Linked DNA regions of Homo sapiens. The protein of the gene in region 3 interacts with the protein of the main gene of each other region in a biochemical or structural test. Each region holds a gene or a part of one and is shown on either strand. Other genes may lie near its edges. The genes, in order: RGPD5, NOSIP, TNPO1 and HNRNPD.

What was found.
Region 1: the proteins of TNPO1 (region 3) and RGPD5 form a complex in vitro, tested with the Homo sapiens proteins (one study listed by BioGRID).
Region 2: the proteins of TNPO1 (region 3) and NOSIP form a complex in vitro, tested with the Homo sapiens proteins (one study listed by BioGRID).
Region 4: the proteins of TNPO1 (region 3) and HNRNPD form a complex in vitro, tested with the Homo sapiens proteins (one study listed by BioGRID).

What each region holds. Positions count from the first base shown.
Region 1 is NC_000002.12:109,825,282-109,832,305, reverse strand, and holds part of RGPD5 (RANBP2-like and GRIP domain-containing protein 5/6), read right to left. Parts: intron 6,431-7,024; coding exon 6,272-6,430; intron 6,006-6,271; coding exon 5,868-6,005; intron 5,606-5,867; coding exon 5,459-5,605; intron 4,515-5,458; coding exon 4,335-4,514; intron 4,242-4,334; coding exon 4,158-4,241; intron 990-4,157; coding exon 854-989; intron 1-853.
Region 2 is NC_000019.10:49,556,544-49,563,567, forward strand, and holds part of NOSIP (nitric oxide synthase-interacting protein), read right to left. Parts: intron 4,150-7,024; coding exon of another isoform or gene 4,149-4,149; coding exon 4,079-4,148; intron 3,497-4,078; coding exon 3,391-3,496; intron 3,362-3,390; exon of another isoform or gene 2,892-3,361; intron 2,807-2,891; exon of another isoform or gene 2,436-2,806; coding exon 2,354-2,435; intron 707-2,353; coding exon 547-706; coding exon of another isoform or gene 538-546; intron 451-537; coding exon 332-450; intron 194-331; coding exon 6-193; intron 1-5. UniProt on the Homo sapiens protein: E3 ubiquitin-protein ligase that is essential for proper development of the forebrain, the eye, and the face. Catalyzes monoubiquitination of serine/threonine-protein phosphatase 2A (PP2A) catalytic subunit PPP2CA/PPP2CB.
Region 3 is NC_000005.10:72,811,759-72,819,660, reverse strand, and holds the start of TNPO1 (transportin-1), read right to left. Parts: upstream 3,001-7,902; 5' UTR 2,924-3,000; coding exon 2,909-2,923; exon of another isoform or gene 2,707-2,908; intron 1-2,706. UniProt on the Homo sapiens protein: Functions in nuclear protein import as nuclear transport receptor. Serves as receptor for nuclear localization signals (NLS) in cargo substrates.
Region 4 is NC_000004.12:82,370,992-82,377,836, reverse strand, and holds the start of HNRNPD (heterogeneous nuclear ribonucleoprotein D0), read left to right. Parts: upstream 1-3,845; 5' UTR 3,846-4,158; coding exon 4,159-4,391; intron 4,392-6,252; coding exon 6,253-6,309; intron 6,310-6,845. UniProt on the Homo sapiens protein: Binds with high affinity to RNA molecules that contain AU-rich elements (AREs) found within the 3'-UTR of many proto-oncogenes and cytokine mRNAs.

The DNA.
Region 1 (7,024 bases), on a different chromosome or scaffold from region 3:
GGCAAGTGCTTTGGAGTTACACCACTGGAGTGTGAATCTCGGCTCTATCAATAACTAGCTGTATAATAATGAGTAAGTTACCTAACCTTTCTTTATCCATTTCCTTATTTATAAAAAAGGGATTAATAATGGTACCGGCCATTCTAAGTTACTGTAATTAAATCAAATTACATTCACACAGCACTTTTGCACACAGCCAACCCACAGTAAACACTATTAGTAACCTTAGTTCATTAACTGTTTACTGTATACTCTAATAAATGTCTGATACACACCCACGCCCACCTGCACATACACAAATGCTCATAGTAATTATGTAAGGCAAGTATTATCTCCACATTTCAGACAGGTTAACTTACACAGCTATTATAGTAAGTGATAGAGCAGAACTTAAAAACCCAGTATGATTCAGGTCCAAACTCCTTTTCTTTCTTTATATAACCATAATATTTCAAATTAAGTAAGATTTCCTATATAACGTCCTGCCTCTCATCATTATCATCAAAATAATTCCCCAGAGGTGTAGGTTCTTAATTAAGCATTTCTTAGTGCATAACTCTATTCAATAACATTTTGCAATTTAAGGAATAATCTCATCTCAGCTCATCTGAGGTGTGGATTAAGTGTTCTTTAAGCCTTTATATACACGTGATCACATACGGCTCGTTTTTTCTGCTTGGGATTATAAAAATCTCCGTAACACCTAATACAGCTTTTGAAGTCACATATAAACAGACGTTGACATGTATATTAACAAACATATATAAACAAGGTGATTTCACACGTTATCTACTTAAAAGAGGGAAGTAAAGTAGTTTTACTAAAATATGCGATTATCCACTTGCCAGCTCACCTGTTAGTGGAGCCCCATGAAATGTCTGTGACCCCTGATATCCATCAGGCACCGAGTCTGGTCCATAATTCTCTGTGGGCCAACGATGACGGGATGCTGACTTACTGCTATTTAGTTTCAACTCCTGCATTTCTTTCTATTGGAAGAAAAAAAAAATCAAATAATTTTAATCATTTAATTATATCATGCCAGAAACAGTGCTGGGGAAACTTACTCTTTTAAATTTAAATAACTGATTTTTTCTTTTTTTCTTTTTTGAGATGGTGTCTCGATCTGTCGTCCAGGCTGGAGTGCAATGGCACAATCTTGGCTCACCGCAACCTCCACCTCCTGGGCTCAAGCAATTCTCCCACCTCAGCCTCCCGAGTAGCTGGGATTACAGGCGTCAGCCAGCACGCCCGGCTAATTTTTGGTATAATAGTAGAGATGGGGTTTCACCATGTTTGCCAGGCTAGTCTTGAACTCCTGACCTCAAGTGATCCACCACCTCAGCCTCCCAAAGTGCTGGGATTATAGGTGTGACCCACCACGCCCGGACCTGATTATATCTTTTGAAAGTTTCTATTTGCCAAAGAGTTCTAGGTACCTGGTGCTGATTTTAAAATATGATTCTTAATTTGTTAAAAATTTATCTGCTCCCATTTTCATTCGTTAATACAAAACCTAATTCATTAACTCTCTCACCTAAACAAATAACCTCCTAAATGATCACACCTTCATTTCCATTCTACACTTGCCTACATTAACCTTTCTGACGTTCACCTCCAGCCAAGACAATTCCCTGCTCAAAAAAACAAGTACCTACAAACTAAACTTCTTTCCCCAACTTTCACAGTCCTCTAACATTACACTGACCATCCTTTCAGTGTGTTCTTTCTACACTGCAACCTGGACTACCTGACATTCCAAATCACCTCCCCAAATTAGCTTTTCACTTAACCCTGTGTTCAAACAAAATACAACTAATTCTCAAGGTGATGTTCAAATGCTCCACCAGGAAAGGGAAAAAAGTAGTAGCTGCAGAGAATTTATTATGTATATAATAATACGTCCAATGCACTTAAACTCTTAATTTTTACACCATCTACACTGTTAGGTAAACAATATTAGCTCCTATCTTAAAATGAGAGAAACGGATGCAGGGAATAACAGCTGGAATTTGAAACACATCTGACTCCAAAAATGTTTTCTTAACACAACTCTGCTGCCTTGACAAGATGGCAGATAGATCCAATGCCGTCTAGTGTAGCTATGTGGCTACTTGATCTCTGCTGAAGAAAACTAAATGACAGCACCATACCCAACACCCTAGAACCTACAAAATGTCCCCTTACAAAACAGACACTTAACAGGAAATTCTTTTTCCAAAGAAATTGTAGTGGTATCAGAAAACAGGTAAATTTTGAAAAGTTTCAAACTTCTCTGTATCAGCCCAGGAATCCGATCAGTTCTAACAAGTGAGGTCAGGGACAGATCTAGCATGTCTGCTTTCTGTTTCTACAAGTGTTTCAATTAAAAATTTCCCAGAAAGACCTAACCATGAGGTCCAAAACTATCTCAATTTTCAAGCTAAATAAAATTTCCCCCATTCATCCATCTACAGTGCCTAGTCCAGATGCTACACATACACATCCAAGAAATAAGAAACTAGTGGAATCACCTAGAAAACTTTATAGTCACTGTTGGTATCCGCACCAGAGCTTTGAATTTGCAATCACTGCTGTAACTGTAATTTTTAACATTCAGTGTGATGAGAACTGGCTTCAATAATTCTCTCATTTTAAAGATAAGAAGCCAAACAGTCACAAAGGAAGTGACTGGCCCAAGATCATTAATTAATGGCAGAGTCAGTACTAGTACCAAGCTTTTCAAGCTCATGGACTAGTGCTCCACTATACTTCCACAGAATACAATGTTGGGAGCCTGAAACCTGTATGTTAAGTCAAAATTGTATGTAATTGTCATAGGCCACGACTACACAGAATTAACATTCAAAATTTTTGTGCAAATTCAAAAATGTCTTCCCCACCAAATAGTATTCTCTTAATTTGCAAATGCTGCTGATCACACTGTAATAATCGCCACACATCAGCATATCCTTGATGTAACTTTAGCAGTATGAGTAATTTAGTTCTTGCTTGATAAACATGAAAGAACCTACTTTTATTTCCAATTCCAAAAAAGTCAAGCTCCTTTGAACCCTATTGTTAAAATAAGATATATATACATAACTATTTCCTTACATAATTAAGTCAAATTCATATGGAAGTATTAAAATATAGTAAGACTTTTTGAAGCTCAGACCACTTTTCGATTCCTAGCTATACATTTGAAACACATGTAATCCACAGCTAATCTGGGAATGAACTCATAGACCAGAGTATGATTAGTACATTGTAGCACTTCAATCACTCGGGAACCTTCTCTGTGTCAGGAACTCTTATATTTTAAATAAAACAGTTTCTACCTTTGAAGGTCTCAAATTTTGTGGAAGATGAGGAGAGAGACACATAAAGTACTTTCAAAAATATGGTAAAGGGCTGGGTGCGGTGGTTTACACCTGTAATCCCAGCACTTTGGGAGGCCAAGGTGGGCAGATCACCTGAGGTCAGAAGTTCAAAACCAGCCTGGCCAACATGGTGAAACTCTGTGTCTACTAAAAATACAAAAATTAGCTGGGCCTGGTGGCGGGTGCCTGTAATCCCAGCTACTCGGGAGGCTGAGGCAGGAGAGTCACTTGAACCTGGGAGGTGGAGGTTGCAGTGAGCCAAGATCACACCATTGCACTCCAGACTGGGCAACAGAGTGAGACTCCATCTCAAAACAAAACAAAACAAAATATGGTAAAGGGTCAAGACCGAGGTATGTAGGCTGGGCACAGTGGCTCACACCTGCAATCCCAGCACTTTGGGAGGCTGAAGCAGGAGGATTGTTTGAGCCAGGAGTTCAAGGCCACCCTGGGCAACATGGCAAAATCCCATCTCTACAAAAAATACAACAATTAGCTGGGCCTGGTGGCATGTGACTGTCTGTAGTCCTGGCTTCGTGGCAGGCTGAGCCAAGAGGCTCTCTTGAGCTAGGAGGTTGAAGCCGCAGTAAGCTGTGATCATACCACTGTACTCCAGCCTGCACAACAGAACAAGACCCTTGTCTTAAAAAAAAAAAAAAAAGACCAAAATGTCCCCTTGCCATACTATTTGGATGGCAAGGGGACATTCTGACCAGCTTCAGAAAAAAAGTGAGAGAGTAGCCAGGGAAGGAATCTTGGAATAAAAAGTACAGCTAGAGAAATTAAGTGACTTACCTTAATGGCCTCTACTTGTTGGCAAATCATATTCAGTAAAGAATTCCGATCTTCTGTCCATCGAGGTGGTGTTTCGGGAGAATACTGAAAAAAAAAATAAAAATAACAAAACAGCATTTAAAACACTTAGAACAGAAACAATTTCACAATGAAATGATTCCATTCTTTCCTGTTTACCTTGTAACTTTTACTTGGTGATAGTGAATATTTGGTAGGAGACGGTGTAGAATGTTTTATTTCTGAATCTGCATTTCGCAAAGAACCATTTTTATAGAGAGGACCTCCTTCACTATAGTCTTCGAGTTCCTGCATGACTGAATTAAGCATCTGTTTTACAGACTCCAGGGGCACAGGCAACTAAAAATAAAAGACATTAATTAAGGGCTTTCATTTGCAAAAAATTCCAAAAGTAAAAACTCTAAAATGATATATTTTATCTTATTTACATTTTTGTCACTTTAATAAGCACTTTACACTTTAAATAATAATACACGTGAAAGTGTTTTTTAATTATCTTTTTTCTTTGTTTTTCTGTTGTTTTGTATTATTATTTTTATTTTTTTGTCTTTATTCTATTTTTTTCTTCAGGAACACAGAAAAGTGTTGTACAGTCTAACATCTTCTGATTCTAAAGTCCATGCTCTTTCTATTACTTCTGTTAACCATGATAATTGTAGAGGAATGTTAACTTGGAAAGCTTTTCCAAGTGAACAAAATAAGTTACTGATGTTTTCTAACTGATTTTCAATGGTGACAGAAATACAGATGCTACAATACACCAGACAACATAAATCCTAATAAAAGAGTAGTAACACAAATTAATCAACAAAACACTCAGAAGACTGAACATAATTTAACATCATCATGACAATCTCAAACAGCTGACAGCAAGAAAACAAGGGCGTTCATAATGGCTGATGACGATGAGAAGAAATGCTCTTAAGTTGTCAGCAACAACTTTCAATTTCAGCAAAGTTCATTAAGAATTAGTCCTGAGGTTATAATATTTGTTTTGATTACACTGCTAAGATAACAAAATCAATGTCTTATCTTAGAAATCTTTTCTAATTCCCCAAGAAGTACTTTTTAAGAGCATATACCTAGATTCCCAAGTTTAAAAAGACACACCAAACCTAAGACAAAGCAAGCAAATCTAAGCATTTAGACACACGCATCCCTTCTGTGCATTAATAACAACATATTACTGAGTATTTTTGAAATTACCAAAATATAAGACCAACGCAAAAACACTGACCAGTGGGTTATCAGTAAGAACGTACATACAACAACCTGCTACTTACTTTCTTGACCACTGAAAGATTTGAATCACCGTCATCTATAATCTTTATTAGGTAGTCCCTGGTCTTTGTCAGATAATTTCTGCATTCTTCTTGTTCTTCAGGAGAAAGGGCATCATTTTCAATGTCTTCTGCCTTCCTGTGAAAAATCTATACAAATAGTGCTTTCATGAAATCATTAGCTTTTTAAAACAAAAAACTTTCAGCTTGGCCACGCATGGTGGCTCATGCCTGTAATCCCAGCAACTCGGGAGCTGAGGCACAAGAATCGCTTGAGCCTGGGAAGCAGAGGTTGCAGTGAGCCAAGATTGTGCCACTGCACTCTAGCCTGGCCAACAGAGAAACCCCGTCTTTTAAAAAAAATAATAAATAAATAAATACAACTTTTAGCTCAAGTACTGCATCTACTTACCAGTGCAAGATTCCAATAAGAAACAACACTTTTTATAGATTCAAAAGCAGTCACAGCATCTTCTATATTTCCATTTACTGCATCCAACATAGCAAAAGTTATGTGTGCGTCTTCTTCATATTCAACAATTTCTGATGCCTAAACACATAGAATAGTTTTTAGTCAAATTGTTTATACTCAGAATATAAAACCCAAATGATTTTCCAAAGATTTTATATGATCTTAAGAGACAAACATCTCATTACTCTTCTCTGTCATATCTTATCTGTGAGAGCTAGTGAATTTAGAAAACAAGATTACCGTTAAATAACAAGGCAATTAATTTAAGCAGTTTATAGCTCCACGTCTTTGTTTATAAACTGGAAATTCCCATCTCCAATAAATTCATAAAGGAACTCTGTTACCTGAATGTCTACACTATGAAAATGTTTAAACAGAGGATCAATAGGTTCAGGAATACTGTTCTTCTTTATTATCTTCAACAATGGCAAAACTTTCTTCCAATAATGAACACTTCTCCCTATGTATTCTAGTTGACCATAAAAAGAATTAAGACCGCTGCCCTAAAAAAGAAAGTTAAAAGCACACAACTTTAAGGAACACGCATGATTAGATCTAAAGTTCATTTACAAGTTGTAAGAACTGGCTAAAATTTCAAGTCAAAACCAAATGGTACCTCAATAGTCATTTGTTCAACTTCCAAATACTGTAATAACTAAACCACCTTAATACCAGTGAACTCACTGCAACCTCTGCCGTGCAGGTTCAAGCAATTCTCCTGCCTCAGCTTCCCAAGTAGCTGGGATTACAGGCACCTGCCACCATGTCTGGCTAATTTTGTAGTTTTAGTAGAGTTTTTTTTTGTATTTTTAGCAGAGACGGGGTTTCACCGTGTTAGCCAGGAATGATCTCGACCTCCTGACCTTGTGATCTGCCCGCCTCGGCCTCCTAACGTGCTGGGATTACAGGTGTGAGCCACCGCACCCGGCCTCTACACTCAACTTTTAAATGCTTCTAATGATACCACTCTAACGTAGCAATCCAAACTACTTTTTAACAGTTGTCCTTTTTAGATAGCTGAAACCTGCCTCTTCTGTAGTGTCAGTTTGTTCAAAAGGCTGACCATCTACACCTAATGGTGACACAAAACACACCTT
Region 2 (7,024 bases), on a different chromosome or scaffold from region 3:
CTCACGAGGGCCGCAGCACAGCGCAGGGGGTGGCGTTGCTCAGGCTGTCGCGGGTCACGGCACACACGTAGCGCTCGCTGCGGGTGATGAGCCCCACGCGGTCCACGGAGCTGTCTAGCGGTGTGAAGTGCACGGGCGTCAGGTCCGACATGCGCAGGGGCTTCCCTGACATGGGGCAGGTCACCGTGCGGGACTGCAAGGGGCAGAGAGAGGCGGGCTCAGTAGGCAGGGCTGGCGCAGGTGGAGAGCGCGTGGTCCCTGTGCGTGAGGAGGACGGTGGGGAACCCTGGCGCCCTGGCACCGTGCGTGCCGGGGCGCTGTGGGGGCTCACCGGCTTCTCCAGCTTGGTGGCCTTGGCTTCGGGCGTCAGCGACGGGATCCAGAAGCTGGGCAGCACTTTGTCCTTGTCCTTACTTGGAGGACCCACACTGGGCCCAGGTTGGACATCATCTGTGGGGGAAGGAAGGGACTCAGATGCCGCCCCCTGGGCCCGCCCAGCCCGCGGCGCCCCGCCCCCCAACCCACAAGAAGCCCAACCTGAGTCACCTGGGCTGGTGCCCGAGAGGGCCTTGGCTGTGAAAGGGTTGAGGGGCCGGCTCACGATAGCCGACTCCTTCTCCAGGAAGCCCCGCACATGGTCCTGCGAGGCCGCCCGCTGAAGCTCCTTCTGCTCCTCGCGCCGGGTGCCCCGCTGCTTCTCGTAGGCCTGCGTCGGGGAAAGTGGGCTGAGCATCTGCCCGTGGGGCTGGGGGTATCTTCCTCCCATTTCACAGGTAGGTAAACTGAGGCCCACAAAGGGGACCCTCTGATGGAGGCACTATGTGGCAGAGGGTGGTAACTGCCACCCTGGGTGGGTGTGAACCTTACTGCGTTGTATAGCCAGACTGCCAGGGCTCAAAGCCCATCTCTGTCACTCTGTGGCCTAAGTGAGCACTATGACCTCTCCTGGCCTCAGTTTCTTCATCTGTAAAACAGCCTAACAGTGGTTACCCACCTCAGCGGCTCACTGAAGGGTTACATAAGGTGAGTGTTTACAGCATGGAGAGCCTCACCTGGCACTCAGCTAAGCATTTAATTAATGTCACCTGCTGGCCAATTAAGTTTTCTATACAGTGCATGCCCCAGCCCGTGTTTGGGACGGGGGATGTAGACTTCAGATCTAAGGGAATGCTGAGGAGCCCATGTCTATGGACGGACAGTGAGTGAGGACGGGAGAAGTGAAGCCATGACCTGAGCTCAGCCCTGCCTGGCGCACAGCAGTTGCCTGGGCGGTGCTGCAGTTCCAGACCACCCTGGGCCACCCAGCTGAGTGAGGAGGTAACAGTGACAGTGATGGATGCTCATGAGGGCCTCCGACATGACCACCAGGCTGTGTGGAGGACATGGGCACAGGGGGAGCCACCTGCTTGGGACAAAAAGCCCAATAAGCATGTGACCTGTAGTGTTTCCTGAGCGCCAGCAACCAGGCAGGGGAAGAGGGGGACAGACCCACTGTGCCTCAAACAGGGCCCCTCCTACCCATCAAATGGCTTTGTCCATGGAAGGCCAGGCCGGGTTCCCAGTAACACGCCTTGAGAATGCTCATCTGCGTGTACCTCCCAGGTGCCCTGCTGTGTCCTCTGATTTGGCCGTCAGCCCGTTTTACAGACGATGAAACTGAGGCCCAGAAAAAATGAGGTGATGTCAATTCACGTAGCACATCTTTTTTTTTTTTTTTTTTTTTGAAACAGAATCTCGCTCGGTTACCCAGGCTGAAGTGCAGCGGTGCCATCTCAGCTCACTGCGACCTCTACCTCATGGGTTCAAGCGATTCTCCTGCCTCAGCTTCCTGAGTAGCTGGGATTACAGGCGCCCGCCATGCCCGGCTCAATTTTTTTTTTTATTTTTTTATTTTTAGTACAGACAGGGTTTCACCATGTTGGCCAGGCTGGCCTCTAACTGTTGACCTCAAGTGATCCGCCTGCCTCGGCCTCCCAAAGTCCTGGGATTACAGGTGTGAGCCACCACCCCCGACCCATTTAGCATATCTTTACTAAGGACCTAAGCTACAGGGTGGGAAAACTCGAAGTCCATAAGGGAAAGTGGGCATGTGTCAGACAGCCACATGTACAGCTACAACTATGCTAAGTGCTAAGAGAAGAGGTGACTGGGGCAGATCCTGGGGACTGGCAGGAGCTCAGAGGAGGCAGCATCTGGGCTGAAATCGGTGAGAAGGATTTGGCCGGAAGCAGGGGAGGGGAATGGTGTACCAGGCAGAGGGAACTGAGATCAGAGGGCTCTGAGTGGCTCTGCCTGTGAGCTCAGACTCAAAAGCTCCTGCCTCCGTGTGCCGCCTCCTCCCCATCCCCATCACCTTCATCTGCCGGGCAATCTCCTTCTTCTGGTGCAGAATGTACTCCAGGATGGCCTCACGCTCATACAGGTAGCCATCTGGGCTGCAAAGACAGGGTGCAATGAGAAAGAAAGAAAGTGATCCTCCCGCCTCGGCCTCCCGAAGTGCTGGGATTATAGGCAGAAGTCATCATGATCAGTCCCAAGTTCAATTATTTGCTAGAATTCACAGAACTCAGCAAAGCTGTTATACTCATGGTGATAGTTTACTGCAGTGAAAGGATGCAGATTAAAATCAGCAAAGGAAAAAGGCACATGGGGCAGAATCTAGTAGAGACTAGATTTGAGCTTCCAGCTGTCCTCTCCCAATAGAGCTGCAGGGAAAGTGCTTCATTCTCTCAGCAACAATGTGTGCCACATATTGTTGCAGCCACGAGTTCGAGACCAGCCTGGGCAACAAAGTGAGCTCCCCTCTCTACAAAAAACAAACAAAAACGCCAGGTGTGGTAGTGCACACCCGTGGTTCCAGCTACTCGTGGGGGCTGAGGCAGGAGGATCACCTGAGCCTGGGATATCAGTGAGCCAAGATGTCCCCATTGCACTCCAGCCTGGGCAACAAAGTGAAGACTCTGTCTCAAAAAAAAAAAAGAAACCTGAAGGTGGCCTTGGGGGCCCTGATCATTAATTACTGTCTTCTACAAAATATACCACTAATTGAGCACGTATTTAGTGCCTGGACTCAGCACCTGTTAAGCCTTTGCCCTACCATCAGAGGTAGGTCATGGGAAGTGTCCAAAGGTGAGCTGCTCCGATGGCCTCGGCAATGCTCTGAGAGCCCTACACCCCATTAGAAGTATGTTCCTTTCCATATGTTCCACACTATGAAACAGATGCTAGGATCATGCCCATGTCCCATGTGAGAATACAGAGGCTCTGAGGATAAACTGCTCATCCAGGGTTCCCTGGCTGTGCAGGTGGCCAGACCCACGCACACAGCCTCCTCCTGGCGGTTCCCTTGCTCTCCCCACCCAGACCTACCCATCCCTGTTCCCAGCTCACGTGACAACAGGATCGTGGCAAGGCTGCAGGGAGAGACAACAGCAGTCGAAGTCCTTCACGGCATCCCGGCTCAGTCGAATGTTCTGGGTCCCATAGCCCGAGGCCGCTGGGGACAGAGATGGGCAGAGTGATGGAGGGGCGGAGCAACAGGAGACATGTCCGTCTCCAAAGCCCCAGAGAGAGGCACAGAGACAACGCGGTGGTGGGGGTGGGGGACTCAGAGAGAAACAGGCAGTTGGGAGCCGCTGCCTGTGTGCTGGGGCCACGGGCTGAACCCACAGGGAGTTGTCAACCCTGGAGGGTGAGAGGCAGACAGGCCTGGTCACTGAGTGGCAGCTTGGTGGAGGGGCTGACGGCTGACTCCCCTCCACCCTTCTGACTGTGACCAAGCTCAAGTGCCTGTCCCTCTTTGGGCCTCAGTTTCTTCCTCTGGAACATGGGGTAACAAGAGCACCCTCCCTGACACTCTGTTGGGAGGAGTGAGTTCATGCGCAGAAGGCAGAGAACACAGTGCCGGGCCACATGGGGTCATGGGATCACCCAGCTGTTGTTTACATGGTCATGGCCATCAGTGTATATCGGGGGCGGGAGAGAGACAGGGACAGAGGAAGCAAAACCTGGGGCACGAGGGGAGAGGGTGACTCCAAGACACAGCCATGTCCCGCCTCTTCCCACCCCAGCCCTGCACCTGTGTCCTTCTTCTTCTCGTGGTAGGTGTAGACGGCCCCTGCGGTGCAGTTCTTGCCATGCCGCGTCATCCTAGGGAGGAAGGGACAGTGGCAGGACTGTGGTTACCGGAGGCAGGCAGCACAGGGAAGACCTCTGCAGCCCTCAGAGCTGATCTGCCCCCCTTGATGGGAAAGCGGAGGCGGAGAAGGGGGGTGAGGTGGAAGAGAGGGAGGGCATGTGGTCGCCAGGCCTCCTCCAGGAAGTCCTCCTTCCAGACTCACCTAGACTCATTTATATGTGAAAATAGCACCTTTAACAACAAAACTCTTTGTTTGGAGGTAAGAGGGTGAGAGACCAGAGTTCAAATTCTAGCCACTACTTCAGATTAGCTAGGGTGGTGGCTGTGCCATTTAATGGAGGGGAAAAAAAAAGACACCAAGGGGGCCACTATTGTTGATGAATCCACTCCACCTTCCCTTCCCCTCTCATATCTGTAAGCTCTGACTGAGGCCAAGGCGTGGACCAGCCCAGTGATTGGCTCAAGGCTGGGCACTTAGCTAAGGCTTGACACTTAGCTAAGGCTTGACCCAATCGCTGCCTGCCAGTCCACTAGCGACTGGATCTAGCAGCTGTGATTATGTCTCAGATCGACCGATCAGAGGGCAGGTCAGAGTAGGGCTCTGTGTCTAGGGGAAGAGCTACCTCCACTCCCACTGCAGGTAAAGGAGGAAGAGAAGACCCCAGAACCCTGGAGCTCAATTCAAAAAGCAAAGCTTTTTTTATTCTGTAAGTTTTCAAACACATACAAAACCAGAATAGTATAAGGAACCCCCATGATGTACCCATGTCCTGCGGTCCAGCAGCTGTCAACATTTTGCCACCTTACTTTGATACCTTTGATCATTCCCCATACTTAAGGGCAACCCCCACCCTTTTAAATGACTTTATTGAGACACAATTCACATACCATAAAATTAACCCTTTTAAAGTGGTTTCAGACCAGGTGTAGTGGCTCACGCCTGTAATCTCAGCACTTTGGGAGGCTGAGTCAGGTGGATCACTTGAGTTCAGGAGTTCAAGATCAGCCTGGCCAACATGGTGAAACCCCGTCTCTACTAAAAATACAAAAATTAGCTGGGCGTGGTGGCACACGCCAGTAATCCCAACTACTCGGGAGGCTGAGGCACTGAGAATCACTTGAGCCCAGGAGGCAGGGGTTGCAGTGAGCCGACATCATGCCACTGCACTCCAACCTAGACAGAGCAAGGCTCTGTCACAATTAAAAAAAAAAAAAAAAAGACATTGCCTAAGCCAAGATAATGCACATTTATTCCTATGTTTTCTTCTAGGGGTTTGATCATTTTAACTTTTACTTTTTGAGTTAATTTTTGTGTATGGTGTGAGGAAGGGAGCCCCCTACTTTTCTGGAGTTCATTTGTAAAAGGAGAAGCCCTGAACCCACAGAGGCTGGGCAGCTTTCACCAAGACTGCTTGGCCAGTAAACAGCCTGCATGCCTGTTTGTTTGTTTGTTTTTTGAGACGGAGTTTCACTCTTGTTGCCCAGACTGGAATGCAATAGCATGATCTTGGCTCACTGAAACCTCTGCCTCCCAAGTTAAAGCGATTCTCCTGCCTCAGCTTCCCAAATAGCAGGGATTACAGGTGCCTGCCACCACGCCTGGCTAATTTTTTTGTATTTTTAGTAGAGACGGGGTTTCACCGTGTTGGCCAGGCTGGTCTTGAGCTCCTGACCTCAGGTGATCCACCTGCCTCAGCCTCCCAAAGTGCTGGGATTACAGGCGTGAGTCACTGTGCCTGGCCCCTGCAGGCTTTTTTATCCCTTAAAATGATTTAGAGCCAGGCTCAGGGCTCACGCCTGTAATCCCAAAACTTTGGGAGGCTGAAGCAAGAGGACTGTTGAGCCCAGGAGATGGAGATGAGCCTAGGCAACACAGCAAGATCCATCTCTATTAAATTTAAAAACAAAGAAGTTGATGGCCAGGTGCAGTGGCTGATGCCTGTAATCCCAGCACTTTGGGAAGCCGAGGCGGGGGCGGATCACGAGATCAAGAGATCGAGACCATCCTGGCCAACATGGTGAAACCCTGTCTCTACTAAAAATACAAAAATTAGCTGGGTGTGATGGCACATGCCTGTAGTCCCAGCTACTCGGGAGGCTGAAACAGGAGACTCATTGAACCTGGGAGGTGCAGGTTGCAGGGAGTGGAGATTGCACCACTACACTCCAGCCTGGTGACAGACAGAGACTCTGTCAAAAGAAAAAGAAGAGAAGAGAGAAGATCTAGTAACATTATATACTTGTCTCACTCATCTCTAAGTTGCCACCTAAAAATTCTCCCAAGCTTAAACAGTTGCAAAGGATACAATTTCCAGCAACGTAAATGTGTAGCTGATGGAATCTAAATACTGTAATAATTTGAGACCATTTGAAAAATGCAAGAAAAAGCTGTTTCAACAGCAGAAAATTATACATGTCCTGTTTTTCTCTTTGAACTTGTATTTCCGTTCCACTTCCCTCTCTGCCACCCATTTTTAATCTAACATCGTTTTTTCTTTTTGTTTTTTTTTTTGAGACAGGGACTCACTCTGTTGTCCAGGCTGGAGTGCAGTGGTACAATCACAGCTCACTGCAGCCTTGACCTCCTGGGCTCAAGTGATTCTCCTGCCTCAGCCTCTCGAGTAGCTGGGACTACAGGCATGTGCCACCACGCCCAGCTAATTTTTATATTTTTAGTAGAGATGGGGTTTTGCCATGTTGCCCAGGTTGGCCTTGAACTCCTGGACTCAAGTGAACTCCTGGCCTCCCAAAGTGTTGGGATTACAGGTGTGAGCCACTGCACCTGGCACATCATATCTTTTGTGCTTGAAAATTCTTTTTTTTTTTTTTGAGATCGAGTTTTGCTCTTGTTGCCCAAGCTGGAGTGCAATGGCACGATCTCAGCTC
Region 3 (7,902 bases):
TGGTCTCACGGTTATCAGCTTTTTTTCAGTACTGAGTTGTAATATTCGCTCTGGCATGGAGTGTCTTTTTGGATTAAGATGTAGCCACTATTCCTATATGTATTCTATCTACTCCAGAAAATTCCAGGACAAATCCACCTCCCTATTTCCCATTTCAATATCTCATTTGACCATTCAGACTCTAGAACTCTAATATTCCTACTTACTACAGCAACTTACAGTACTTCAAAGGACCCTTCAAAGCAACCCAATCAAACTTGCTTTTGAAAACCTCTCCTAACTAACATCCACGCATACAACTACAAATCAGTTACCACTTGCTGTGGTTTGAATATGGTGTGTCTGTCTCCATCAAAATTCATGTTGAAATCTGATCATGATCTGGTGGACATGATTTAGTTCCCTGAGGGTGAGTTGTTAGAAAGCCAGGCCCTTCCCTCAGATTTCCCCCTCTTTGCCTGGGGTGGCTTCCCCTTTGACCTTCTCTAGCAGGTTATGATGCAGCACAACAAGCTGACCAGATGGCGGCGCCTTGCTTCTTATACTTCCCAGCCTGCAGAACCGTGAGCTAAATAATAAACCTCTTCTCTTTATAAATGACCCAGTCTCAGGTATTCTTTTACAGCAACACAATACGGATTAAGGCACCACTCTTGCAAACATCTGTCTTCCATTGTGAAGCTCATCCCTTGTACAACCCAGAAGACTCCTTCACCTGCCAACACTCAACAGATTTACCATGGCAATGGCTGAATAGGGTCAACTAAGAAAAATCCTCAACCTCCAGGGGAATTTCACTGTTTCTGATCCTTCCTCTTTGAGGATGGCATTGTTCGCCATTGTTTTTGAAAACCTCATCAGTTTCTTTGATTCTCTCAGCTTTCTCATCCTTTTGCTGGTAAACCAAACTGTTTTGAGGGGGGAAGATATCTTTTTAGCACCAATATGTATTCAAATATCAATCTCAGGAAAAAATATCACAATTTATACCCTGGCCAATAAAAAGAACTCCCCCACTTACTGCTGTGCTCCTCTCTGCAGTTTATATTTGATAAATTCATTTATTTCATTACCTATGTCACTTGGTTTGACGTCACTTTATAACCAGGTTTCTTTTCTTAAAAAAACATTTGCAGAATCCAACATGGTTAAAATTCAAGAAATTCTTCTAAATACAGATGTTTACATTTCAATGTAGTAGCTCATTTACAACATTTAGAAAAACTGAGTTCATGGAATGGCTTTAAAATTATAAATAAGCAAAACTACAGTCATAAAAACAATGAATACAATAAGAAATGTTGATATTGGAAAAGCTTACAACTAGAATCATGTATTTTTACAAAAATCTTATTCTGCTCACATTATATAATGGTAATAAAGCCACTGAGAGTTGAGGTAGAAGTGCAAACAAGATTTTTATAGATATTTCAGTGGGAGGAATTTAATAATTCCTGACTAGGAGAAAGATGCAGCCACATCAAGGGTGGCGGCCCCTTTTAGGAAAAAGAAAACAGAACACTAGTACTTCATTAGGCTCACGTTAAATTGCATGAAGTAAAAATCGTACTGCCAAGCTAGTATAAATTTATGCACTGCATAGCTAGAGACTAAAAAAGATATCTGCACCTACAAACTATTGTTTCCCTTTTGTGGTTGCTAATTTTCATCCTGGCACAGCCTTCTCTAGGAACAACTACGGTGCCAGGTAAGGTGAAAGTGGAAAACAGATCCTTTCCCAAAAAACGGAACTTTCCCCTTTTCCACTAAACATAGCTTCTTCACCACTCTAACATGAAAGCTTTGATATAACAGGGAAACTTAAAAAGCTGCAGGAACTTTTGTTATTCTAAAAGTGAGTAGTACGTCAGGACAGCCATTTTACAACCTTCATTTCCAAACACCTATTACACCATACATCTTGCAATTTTAAAAGTATCTTTTCTTTAGGGTAAAAAAAGTACCACTTACACATTCATCATTTAAGTCATTACTGTTTCAAAGGACAGTTATTAAGCTTCTTAATACAGCTGTCAAAATCAATTTGTAGATAGCCTCCAATTTCAAATTTCTACATTTACATCTACTGATAGACCATCCTGATTAGCGATTAAGATAACAGACTTAAACTCTAAGCAATCCTTGCAAAATCCAGTTGATTTTTAAAATCAGTAAGCAACACGCGATCATTTTTAAAGAAAGTCATTCCGAAAATAGCTTGATTGTGGTGGCCAATCTGCTCCTCAGCAGCTGTTCCCTGTTGCTTGTACGCATGGGAGTGGAGGTAGAAGGGCAAAACCCACAAGCCCACGCAAAACTCGTACAGTCACAAACATTATGTAAACATGTCGTGAGGCCAAGAGGCCCCAAGGAGAAAGAACCGCCGGGAGGAAGAGAACGGCAAGCTGCATGTAAGGACGATGGGCGCTGTGTGCGGACGCAGGAGACCCGGGCAGAGGGGCCCAGGGCGGGACAAAGACTGGCCCATCTCGGGCAGCGCCGGCCAGCGCCCAGAACCAGTGAAAGGCAGCCGTCCCGGGGCAGCCGACTGCAGCACTCAAGGGCCCTCAAACGCCACAGCTTAACAGGCGAGGCAAACGCTCCCCTGAATGTAAGACCCTTCCCTTCCCGCCCCTTGTAACGGGCTCCTGCCGCCCCTAACGGGATCCTCGGACGCTTGAGGAGCCGCCGTCGCCTGCTCCCTACCCGGGTCCCGCAGGGCGCCTGGGCGGGCAGCTGTTGGGGTTAGAACCGCGCCGCCGCTGCCTCTCGGCTTCAAACGGCCGGGCAGGCGCCGAGAGAGCGGGCGAGCCCGGCGTCTCTCCCGTAGGCGCGTCAGGCAGCTCGGCGCTCCCAGCCTCCGTTCCCGCCCCTGCAGTTCGGGGCCGCGCACCCTCACGCCACCTACCCGGTCCCACACCATCCCAGACGCCTCGGGCGCTCGGGCCTTCGGCCGAAGCGGCACTGCCTCCTGTCCGGGGCCTGAAATGGCTGCGGAACAAAGAGAATCTGGGCTTCACCGAGCGCCGGTCCGATTGGCCGGGGGGCGGAGCCCGCGGCGGGAACATTCGGCGGCGGTCGCCTTGGCAACGGCGGCGGGGCTAGGAAAATTGCTGCCTGGGTCGGCTGGGCCTGTGGGCCTGCGTCCGACAGCGCGCGGCCGTGCTTTCTAAGCGGGCTCGGCAGCACCAGACTTCACCGGCCCGGCGCGGGGCTCACAAGTGCTCGCACTCCCTGCGGCCGGCGCGCTGACCGGAGCCTCTGGGTCTCGCACGCAGCAGCTGCAGACGCTGCCCGGCGCGGTGGGGCTGTGAGCAAAACGGCCCGCCGGTGTGGTTGCCCAGACTGTGCTGGGCCCTCCTAGGTGGATGGCCCTGCCCCAGCCTAACTTCTGTACCCCAGCATAACCTCCAAAGTAACAGCCGTGCCCTGGGAGCCTGTTCAACACTGAACATATCCCACAATAACACTGTTCCAGCGTCGCTGGTAAAAAGCAGAAATGGCTTCGGTAGGTAGACGCCGGTGGATGGCTGCCCGCTTAGAACAAGATAGGCTTTTGACGTATGTTGTATCTGGCGTATAAACTACTATGTAATTAGAATTCAGTGATTTATAAAATGTTTACGCCTCCAGGTGTTCAATCCTATAAAACTGTAGTTTCTTGCTCTTAGAAATAACAAGCCTTTCTCTCCCTAACCTGCCATCATGAGAAATTAAAATGTCCTGTATTTTCTGTACGGCAAATGATTCAAAATGGGAGTGGTGGACGTTTTTATACCCAACTGCAACAAGGGTAATGAGATAAATATCAGTTTCCTTCCCTCAGATTATTCTTATATGTAAAATTTACTGTATAAAAATACTTAAAATTTGCATAGCTAGCTGATTTTTATTTTCTAAGGTGATGATGCCCGTGATAATATTCCTCACATGATCAGTGTGAGTAGAAATACCAGCAGTTCCGACTATCTTACTGGAAGTGCTGTATATATTTTGAAAATGTGTGACAGTTGTTGCCTTCCTGTCATAGTTTAGGTAAAATTACAGTACATAATACTAGAAAATGTCTAAATTTTTACTAAGGTAATTTATTTGTTCTTCTAAACGTGTTAACAATTTTCATTTGAATTACAGTCATTTTGCAGGAACAACTAGTTTATTTAACTTAAAATTTGAGACTAAAAGTACCATTTTTTAATCATTGGGAAATTGAACTTAGCAAGGGAAAATATAGATAACTAAAATATTCATGATTTCAACATGTTATAATATTAATTTGATAGTAATTGGATACAGTAGTGTATATCAAAAAGAGCCCCCCCCCCCAAATAGGAGTAGATTACCAAGAAAAAAATGTAATATAAACTTTTCTGAATGGTAGTTTATCTGCAGGAAAATATACCCAGAAAAAGTATATTTATCCAAATAACAAATGGCTTATTTCTGCATTTGAAAAGTTACATCGTGGACTAGGATCTATACAAATCAGAAGATGTGTAGTATTTGCATTCTACTTTGCTAAAGGAAAAAACACAAATATTTCTAAAATCCAAAAGATTAGCAAATAATGACAGATGTAAATACTACTGACTAAGCAATTAGTAGGAGTTCACTTGATTAATAGTTTGGAAATAGCTGAAATGAATTGAAGAAAAAGTAACATATTATTTAGCATAAGAGGATTTATTGGCCAAAACATTTTGAAAGAAAAAAATGTTGATTATCAGATGTTGTAAAATTGAGATTAAGCAAATTAAATATGTATTCTTTTGTAAAAATTAAAGTGAATGAAAATACTAATATAAAATAGTTCTGTTGAATAGAGATTCTTACACATGTAGCCTTTTTGTCTCTTCTAGGTCAAATTAAAAAAACATGTTTTAAACAGTAAATCTTATTAACAAGGATTTATTAACATGGCTTATTTTATTTTTCTTTGACAGTTTGCACATATAATAGCAGCTATCCAGTAGTATTTTCTCTTTATACCTAAATATGCTCATGTGGTAAAACTTTGAAGAATTATTAATAATTTTTAAATGACAAAAATGAAGTTAAAATTTATAAACTTTGTTTTTACCTTTAAAACATAGATATATTTAAAATTTCTGTATTAATTTTATTTTCTTAGGTGAAAAATTTACCAAGATAAAAATAAAAACATGTTAGAAGTTACAAAATAGCATCTGAGGGAGAAAACATACCTATAAGCTTTCACCTAGGAATGACAAGATGCTTATTTTGTCAGGTGTAGCATTGTTAAAACAAGTGTGGAGCTTGCAGGCAGAGGACCTATATGCAGATGCTGGCTTTACCATTTATGAATGCTTTTGGCTCAGTCTTTCTGAGCTTCACTTTCTTTTGTCTGAAACAAGATTAAGTAAGATAAGTTACATAAAGAACTCATTAGCAGAGTGCAGGGCAGGTTGTTAGAGGGCAATGAATGAAAGTATTACTAGACATTAATATAAATCAAAGATGTTTGAGAAGGAGGAATATTATTGAAAAAGTAAGTCTGGAAATTCAAAAATTGTTAAATAAATGTCTTTAATAGGCAATTGTTGGTGAGTATATGGAAACCTAGTAAGATAAGTAATTTTTTATATACAGGCAAGCTTCTAAAATAGAATAAGCCTGGGCGCAGTGGCTCACGCCTGTAATCCCAGCACTTTGGGAGGCCGAGATGGGCGGATTACCTGAGGTCAGGAGTTTGAGGCCAGCCTGGCCAACATGGTGAAACCTCGTCTCTACTAAAAATACAAAAATTAGCTGGGCATGGTGGCGGGCACCTGTAATTCTAGCTACTCAGCAGGCTGAGGCAGGAGAATTGCTTGAACCTGGGAGGCAGAGGTTGCGGTGAGCCAAGATCAGGCCATTCATTTGCACTCCAGCCTGGGTGACAGAGGAAGACTTCGTCTCAAAAATAAATGAAAAAATAAAAATAAACAAATAAAATAGAATAGGATCTTCTAAAATATTGTCACCATTTATACTTCTGGAAGACAATTATTTCACATTAGGTAGTTTAAAGAATTGCCTTACACTGAAACATCTTCAGGTTGACATTATGAAAAAAAGTTTCAGTAATTATTTGGAAGAATTTAATTAAAATATTGAAGAGGACAATTGTAGTCAATATTCAGAAATGTGTAAATAATCTACAGGCATTTCTCATTTAAAGTAAACCCAATATATAAAGTTTGAATTCTTAAAAATATAAATTAGGGAGTTATTAACTGGGAAAAATTAACTTCAAATCTCCTTTAAGTATTAATATGTCCTAGTGATTATAATATGATTCTGCTTATAAAAAGGTCTACTTAGATTTCCACTTTTGGGAAGTTGGAATAGATATGCTTGTCCCTATTCCTCCCACTAAGTATAATTAAAACTTCTGAACATTATGTATAAAACAAACATAAAGGTCTCCAAATGGTGGAAAGAAGACAGATCAACTAGAGACCTTGGAACCCAAGGAACAACATGATGGTTAATTGCCTGTGTTTTCTTTTTGCTTTAGAGTCTTTAGAGACTTGAAACTTTACACATCAGCAACCTAGAAACACCAATGGCACAGACTAAAAAGGCCCCATCAAAACACTGCTCCAGCTGAAGGGCCAGAAAAGGAGTATGGCAGACAGAAAACTTTTTGACAATAATTGCATACTCTAGGCAAAACTACAGACAGAATTGTGACCCCATCCTACTCATGTCAGCAAAGTCCTAGTGGATAGCCTAGATCCCCACCCTCACCAGACTATTAGGTAGTTTAAAGAATTGCCTTACACTGAAACATCTTCAGGTTAGCATTATGGAAAAATATTTAAATAATTATTTAGAGGTGCCCTAAGCCCTCCTTCCCAGGGTGGTGTCAGAGAAGGTCAAATAAAGAACCAGTACTTTCATCATCACAAGCCAGTAACAAGGAGTCTCCCATCCTGGGTGTCAGTGGAGGCCAAATGAGGAACTTGGATGTCTCCTCCAACTTGGCAACAATGAGGTGGTGCCTGTTCCCCATACCCACTTCCCCTGCCAGTACCATGTTAGAAAAAGCCAGCTAAAAGAGATTTTCATAAGATTCAAAACCTCATAAATATCCCATACGTCCAGGTTTTATGAAAATCACTCATTATATCATGAACTAGGAAGATCTCAAACTGTATGAAAAAAGACCATTAATAAATGACAAAACCAAGAAGACAAAGATGTTAGAATTATCTGACAAAGATGTTAAAGCAGACATCATAAAAATGCTTCAGTGAGCAACTACAAAAACACTTGAAACAAATGAAAAAAATAGAAAGTCTCATTAAATAAGCAGAAGACATAAAGAAAAACCAAATGGAAATTTTAGAACTGAGAAATACAATAATCAAAATAAAAAACTAAATGAATTGAGTAACAGAACGAAGGAGACAAAGGAATGAATCAAGGAACTTGAAGACAGAACAACAGAAATTATCCACTCTAAAAAAGAGATAAAATAGACTAAAAAGAACAGAGTCTCATGGAACTAAGTGACTACAACAAAAGATGTAACATTCATGAAATCAGAGTCCTAGAGGGAGAAAAGAAAAAGGGTGAGGCTAAAAATACTCAAATAAATAATGTCTGAAAACTTCTGAAATTTGGTGAAAGAGATAAACCTACAGATTCAAGAAGCTGAGTGAATTTTCAACAAAGGAGCCAAAACAGTTAAATGGGAAGAAGGTAGTTATTTTTTAACAAATAGTGCTGAAACAACAGGGTATCCACATGTAAAAGAACAAAATTGGACGTCTGCTTCACACTGTATACAAAAATTAACTTAAAATGGATCATAGAACAAAATATAAGCACTAAAACTATAAAATTATCAGAAGTAAACATGGAATTAAATTTTTGTGACCTGGAGTTAGGAAA
Region 4 (6,845 bases), on a different chromosome or scaffold from region 3:
CATCCATCACCAGGTCATTTGAAGAAGCGTTTCGTTGTTGTTGTTGTTTTTGAAACAGGCTCTTGCTCTGTCGTCCAGACTGGAATGAAGTGGCATCACTGCTCACTGCAGCCTTGAATTTTTGATTCAAGCAATCTTCCCACCTCAGCCTCCTGAGTAGCTGGAACCACAGGCTCACGCCACCACACCCAGCTAATTTTTTTTTTTTTTGAGACATAGTTTCACTCTGTCACCCAGCTTGAGTACAGTGGTGCAGTCTCTACTCACTGCAACCTCTGCCTTGTGGGTTCATGTAATTTTCCTGCCTCAGCCTCCCCAGTAGCCAGGATTACAGGCGTGCGCCACCACGCCCAGCTTATTTTTGTATCTTCAGTAGAGATGGGGTTTCACCACATTGCCCAGGCTGCTCTCGAACTCCCGGCCTCAAGTGATCCACCCACCTCGGACTCTCAAAGTGTTGGGATTAGAGGCGTAAGCCACCGCACCCGGCAACAGAAACGGGTTAAACACAACCCAAGGCGTCCCTGGGTGGGCAGGAACTGATTTTTTAAATTTTTTGTAGAGATAGGTTTTGCTATGTTGCCGGGGCTGGTCTCAAATTCCTGGCTTGGCCGGGCGCGGTGGCTCACACCTGTAATCCCAGCACTTTGGGAGGCCGAGGCGGGCGGATCACGAGGTCAGGAGATCGAGACCGTCCTGACTAGCACAGTGAAACCCCGTCTCTACTAAAAATACAAAAAAAATTAGCCGGGCGTGGTGGCAGGTGCCTGTTGTCCCAGCTACTTGGGAGACAGGAAGGAGAATGGCGTCAACCCGGGAGTGAGCCGAGATCGCGCCATTGCACCTCCAGCCTGGGCAACAGAGTGAAACTCTGTCTCAAAAAAAAAAAAAAAAAAAAAAAAATTCCTGGGCTCAAGCAATCATCCCTCCTTGGCCTACCAAAGTGTTGGGATTATAGGCATGAGCCACAGCACCTGGCCAAAAGTTTTTTTTTTTTTAATGCCAGAGATGAAATGAGATGGTGTGGAGAGGAGACTTTCAAGTCCCTGGAAGAACACCTAGTTTGCTTGAAAGCCCCTTAATCTAACAAGTTGGACATACTTATTATTTTGTCATTCAATAATTCAACTGGCAATTACATAGTGTGGATATACTGCTGCTGTGTTTATGTGTGTGTGAGAGTGTGTTAGGGAGGGAGAGATACATAGAAGACACTGTTTTCTAAGAACTCATGGTCTAGTAGAAAACAATGAAGAATAACAGAGGTAAAGATAAAGGGCTGTGAAAAGGGATCATTAATTCTGCCTCAGGAAGCCTGGGAAGACTTCACATAAATAGTAACATTTGTTTGTTTTTGAGACAGGGTCTCACTCTGCCTTTCTCACTGCAGCCTCCACCTTCCAGGTTCAAGTGATCCTCCCACTTCAGCCTCAGGAGTAGCTGGAACAACAGGAACCACCATGCCAGGTTAATTTTCTGACTTTTTGTAGAGGCAAGGTCTCACTCCGTTGCCCAGGCTGATGGCCAACTCCTTGAGGCAAGCAATCCTCCCGACTTGGCCTCTCAAAGTGCTGGATTACAGGCGTGAGCCACCACGCCTGCCAGAAGTTAAGTGAGTTCCAAGAAGAATATTGTGTGGATGCAGGAGCACATCCTGGATGTAGAGATCTTGGCCATAATATCAAGGACTATCAGTGATATGGACATCATACATCCTCATAAAGCATGTAAAGGTGTTAGCTTTAAAATCATTCCTAGGTTGTCTGGAACTTTTGACATAAATTCTAAGAATTCCAGAAGCTCCTAAGCTACATGTGAAATCAAAATGAACCTTTTGGAAAAGTCACTATTACCAAAAGGTGGGTATGTCTAATGATATCTTAAGATCAAAATAAATGACAATTACCGTCACTTGAGCCAGAAAAGATTAAACAGACTTCCCTTCAGTCAATCATCTTAGTTGTATCTAACCCGGAATATATGGTTTGAGCACCATATCCACTTTATCCTTTGCTAATATTCTGGCAGGTGGAGACAAATGTGGAGTCACTACCACTTTACGGTAAACATTCTTGGTATTACCTTTATGTGACTTGATTATTACGGGAGTTTGGTAAGATTATATTTTTAGGACGTTTTCAGAATTTGACCTGTATTCTTGAGTTTTAATTATTCTGTAATGTAAATTCTACTAACTTGATTAATAAAACTTACTTATAATCTTCCTTTGAGATTTTTGGATAGTGTCCAATTAATACAAATTCGTTTAACTGCAGTGGAAAATACCTAAACTTTTTTTTTTTTTTTTTTTTTGAGACGGAGTCTCGCTCTGTCGCCCAGGCTGGAGTGCAAGTGGCATGATCTCGACTCCCTGCAATCTCCACCTCCCGGGTTCAAGCGATTCTCCTGCCTCAGCCTCCTGAGTACCTGAGATTACAGGTACCGGCCACCACGCCCGGCTAATTTTTGTATTTTTAGTAGACACGGGGGTTTCACCATGTTGGTCAGGCTTGTCTCGAACTCCTGACCTCGTGATCCGCCCGCCTCGGCCTCCCAAAGTGCTGGGATTACAGGCGTGAGCCACCGCGCCCGGCCCAAATACTTAAACTCTTAAGATTTTTGCTGGAGTCTGCAAACTCGTCTTTGTTTCCCCCGTGCCCGAACACTTTAATTAAACAGGCAAATAATTATTTGTTGACTACAGAAGTACCTAGAAGCTTCATTTTCTTCTAAGGATACTGCTGGAAGCAGCAAATCCCAAAGCCCGAATAATCCAGTCTCCAGCCGAGGCAGCGGGAATTTTTAATAGGTGTATAAAATTACTTTTTATACACCTTAATGAAACGCCTAACGGTGTTACAAGAAAAGAAAAAAAAAAACCACGCACACACAACAAAAAAGCCAAACCCGAACACAAACTCATAAACCTCGTAAAGATGACTCACGACATTTATATATTCTATGTACAAAGGCTAAAGAACATTAAGCGAACCCTTGATTTAACACACTTTCCAATTATTAGTAACGTAAAGGAATCACGGTACGTTTTAGGATCTTTAAACAACAAAAGCAAAGCAAAAACAATGTTTTCCTTAAGATATGCAAGTTACCTGCTTCTTCGACCAAAAACAAAAAAATTCCAGGAGAAAAGCAGGCAAACAAAAATCTTACTTGGAAAGCCAAATCTTAAAAAGAAGCCCTATCGGCCCAGCGGCGATAGACGAAAACCTCAATGTCACCCGGTCCCGGGCGGCGACGGCAGGGAGAGTAGCTGCGGCAATCAGTGCGCGCGCGGTCCGCTGCGGCGCCTGGCGCTCCGCGGGCGTCCGGGTGGACAGCGCCAGGGGCACAGGGCTGACATCTCAGGGCTAATTCCCTCCTCCAGTGCGTAAATCCAGGCTTAAGCCGCCGCAGGGTGTGAGCCTCCCCTCCCCCACCCGAACGCCGCAGCTGCACGGGGCACGACAGCCTTCGCAGAGGTGCAGCCACACCCCGGCCTAACGCTGCTGCTCCCGCCGCTACTGGAGTGGTGGGGAGGGGTGAGTGGACTCCAGGAATCCTCGGAAGGGCGGGGGCGGAGGCAGGGGGCCCCTCTAGCCGCTACTTCGAAACAGCACTCCTTGTTCTCGATGGTCCCCGCGCGACTGTCTTAGCTCACGACACTTCCGGTTCCTTTTAAAGGCCCCCAAGGCTGTGCAACGCGGAGCGTGAGAGGAAGGTATAAAGGGTAGCGAGAGGGCGGGACCGAGGAGGAAAGGGAAAAAAAAAAAACTAGGGGGATAGGGGTGGGGGGACGCGCGAAGGGCGCGCTCTCGCGTCACGTGACCGGGACGCGCCGTTCTTCCGTCGGCCATTTTAGGTGGTCCGCGGCGGCGCCATTAAAGCGAGGAGGAGGCGAGAGCGGCCGCCGCTGGTGCTTATTCTTTTTTAGTGCAGCGGGAGAGAGCGGGAGTGTGCGCCGCGCGAGAGTGGGAGGCGAAGGGGGCAGGCCAGGGAGAGGCGCAGGAGCCTTTGCAGCCACGCGCGCGCCTTCCCTGTCTTGTGTGCTTCGCGAGGTAGAGCGGGCGCGCGGCAGCGGCGGGGATTACTTTGCTGCTAGTTTCGGTTCGCGGCAGCGGCGGGTGTAGTCTCGGCGGCAGCGGCGGAGACACTAGCACTATGTCGGAGGAGCAGTTCGGCGGGGACGGGGCGGCGGCAGCGGCAACGGCGGCGGTAGGCGGCTCGGCGGGCGAGCAGGAGGGAGCCATGGTGGCGGCGACACAGGGGGCAGCGGCGGCGGCGGGAAGCGGAGCCGGGACCGGGGGCGGAACCGCGTCTGGAGGCACCGAAGGGGGCAGCGCCGAGTCGGAGGGGGCGAAGATTGACGCCAGTAAGAACGAGGAGGATGAAGGGTGAGTAAGGGGCATCCCAGGATAGTCAGGCCCAACTAGTCCCCCTCCCCCTCTTTATTCCCCCGCCATTAGGCCTGGTTCCCGCTCTCAGCCCGTTCTCCGGGCCCCCATGCAGCCTCCTTGCACTGGTCTCCCTTTTTCTATGTTGGGTTCCCCGGACCTTCATTTCCTTCTTCCTTTGCCTGCTTATCGCCCCCCTCCCCCATCACACACGTTTCCACCTTTAGCCGTCACCATGCTGCTCCTCGGCCCGCCCTCCTTTCCTCCCTCGCCATGGGTCTCCTCCCACCGACTTAGCCGCCAGGATTTTTTCCCGCCTGTCGTGGGGTACCTTTTTTCTTTCCATGCTGTCCCCTCTTTTTCCCTTTTTCTACAGTCTTGGGCATAAAAACACAGACACAAACAGCTTCTCTGTTTGTATTACTAAGGTTTATTTGGTGCTTCTCCACCATCCTGAAACGATGCGATTGTTTATAAGCACATGTTTTGGGGAACGCGTAGGCTGTCCACCTCTGCCTCTCCCTTGTCGGCCTTAGGCCGACTGTTTTCTTGGGATTTTGAATAAGTTTCGCCTAAGGATTTACTCATTTTCTCCACCATACGCTATCGCACAATGGCATACTCATACAGGCCCTACATTTTGACATGCAGACCAAATTGGGTCTGGTGAAATGCTCCGAGTTTCTTGTTGGTACATTGGTTTTGCTCCGCGGGCTCTGGTTAAGTTCTTAGTCGATCGGGCCTGCACTTGACTGGAGCTGTTCCTATCTCCGGCCTAGCATCTACCCTTCCCCCACCCCACTGAGTTATTCTAACCGCGCACCCTTTTCGCGCCCTCAGCTATTGGGTTCCCCAACTGTTAGTACAGATTGTACCTTACTTTTTATGTGCAACCTAATTTTTTACAACCCCCAGCCCCCTTTTTTTCCCGGTGCCCAGGATCCTATTTTGGTGTCTTGATATCTGTTTCCCGCCCACTAAGGGAGGCCTGTAGTCCTCTTAAGAGAAACAAATCCTGTATTGTGCTATGGGATACTTTTTTTTTCTTTTTGGTGCAAATTTCTTAGTATTAACTTGCTTCCTCCAATTGAAATAACAGTTGTATATACTACCTAAATCTGCATTTAGTGTATTAAAATGCAGCATTTGGGATTGGGAACATAATACGGGAGTTAGCAGGAGGGACTAAATCAGGTTTCTTGGTTGAGTTTTCTTAGCTCCGATTACTGACCGATGATCGTGGGTTCACGCTTCCATTCCTTTTTGTAATGGGGAGGGGTGTGTGTGTGTCTGAATTTTTTTTTAACTGTAAAGAGAAAGGTGTTGGTGGATATAACAAGATGTCGCTTTAATCTAGTATTAGAAAACACGATTTCCTTTACTGAGAAAGAGCCCAGGATTTGGAGGGAAAGTTGGGAGGGGAGAAGCACTTTGGAATATAGGGTTTATTAAGCCCAGCCTAGGCAGATTCTTGTCAGGCTGTTTGATGATAGTGCTGGTTTTGGGGGAGTGGTGGTGGGAAGGGAAGCAAACTTTTAAAAATTAAACAGAACCAACTCGAATTGTATATAGCTTATTTGAGAAAGGAAGATGTTAGATATTTGGAAACTTAAAACCTTTAACATTTTGGTTTTCGTTTGCTGAATTCTGTTCTTTGGACAGAGGCACCAAAATGATTAATTGTATAACTTCCTGTTTGGGGCAGGCTTTCTGTTAGCCCTGATAATTCAAATCGCAAAGCAGCTGACTTTATAGTTACCTACTGTTGAAGTGTAAATGAATTAAAGTTTTTAACCCTAACAGTGTCAAAAACTAAAACTAGAATTTTGATTGGTTGCTGTACCGGTTGTTAATTCCCTAGCCATTCAAACTCCTCCCCACGACACTCTGAAGCAGCGACGGCACAGCGGGAAGAATGGTAAAACTTTTAAATTTTATTTCTGTATTATAAAGGTTTCAGTAGTCATAATATGTAGAGGCTGTGTATTGGTTAGTTGCCCATTGATCCCCAGGAAATTCTAGACCATAGTACATACAGTAGGTTTGTACCTGGGATATATACCTTTTATAGGCATCATGTGTAATCTTTGGGCAAAATTGATGCCGTTACATGGTATTTGGTCTGTGGTAATGCATGTAGTTGCAGTTTGGCAATTTAAGCTAAACAATTAGTAACGATATTTTTATATCGAGCAAGAAAAAATATTACCGTAATCTTCACATTTGATTTATTTTAAGATGAAAAATATTTTTGTTGGAATTTAAGTTTAATGGCTAAATATGAAGACTCCTTGATATAAAATATTGTGTTTAAAATGTCATGCATGTTATACTGAAATATTCTGGAGATGTCTGAAGCAGTTCTTTAAGCAGCACTGTGTATTATGGAAAAATGTTTGTCTTTTACCTAGCATATTTGTAAATAGACCTTTAATAAGAAGTGTGTGTGTGTGT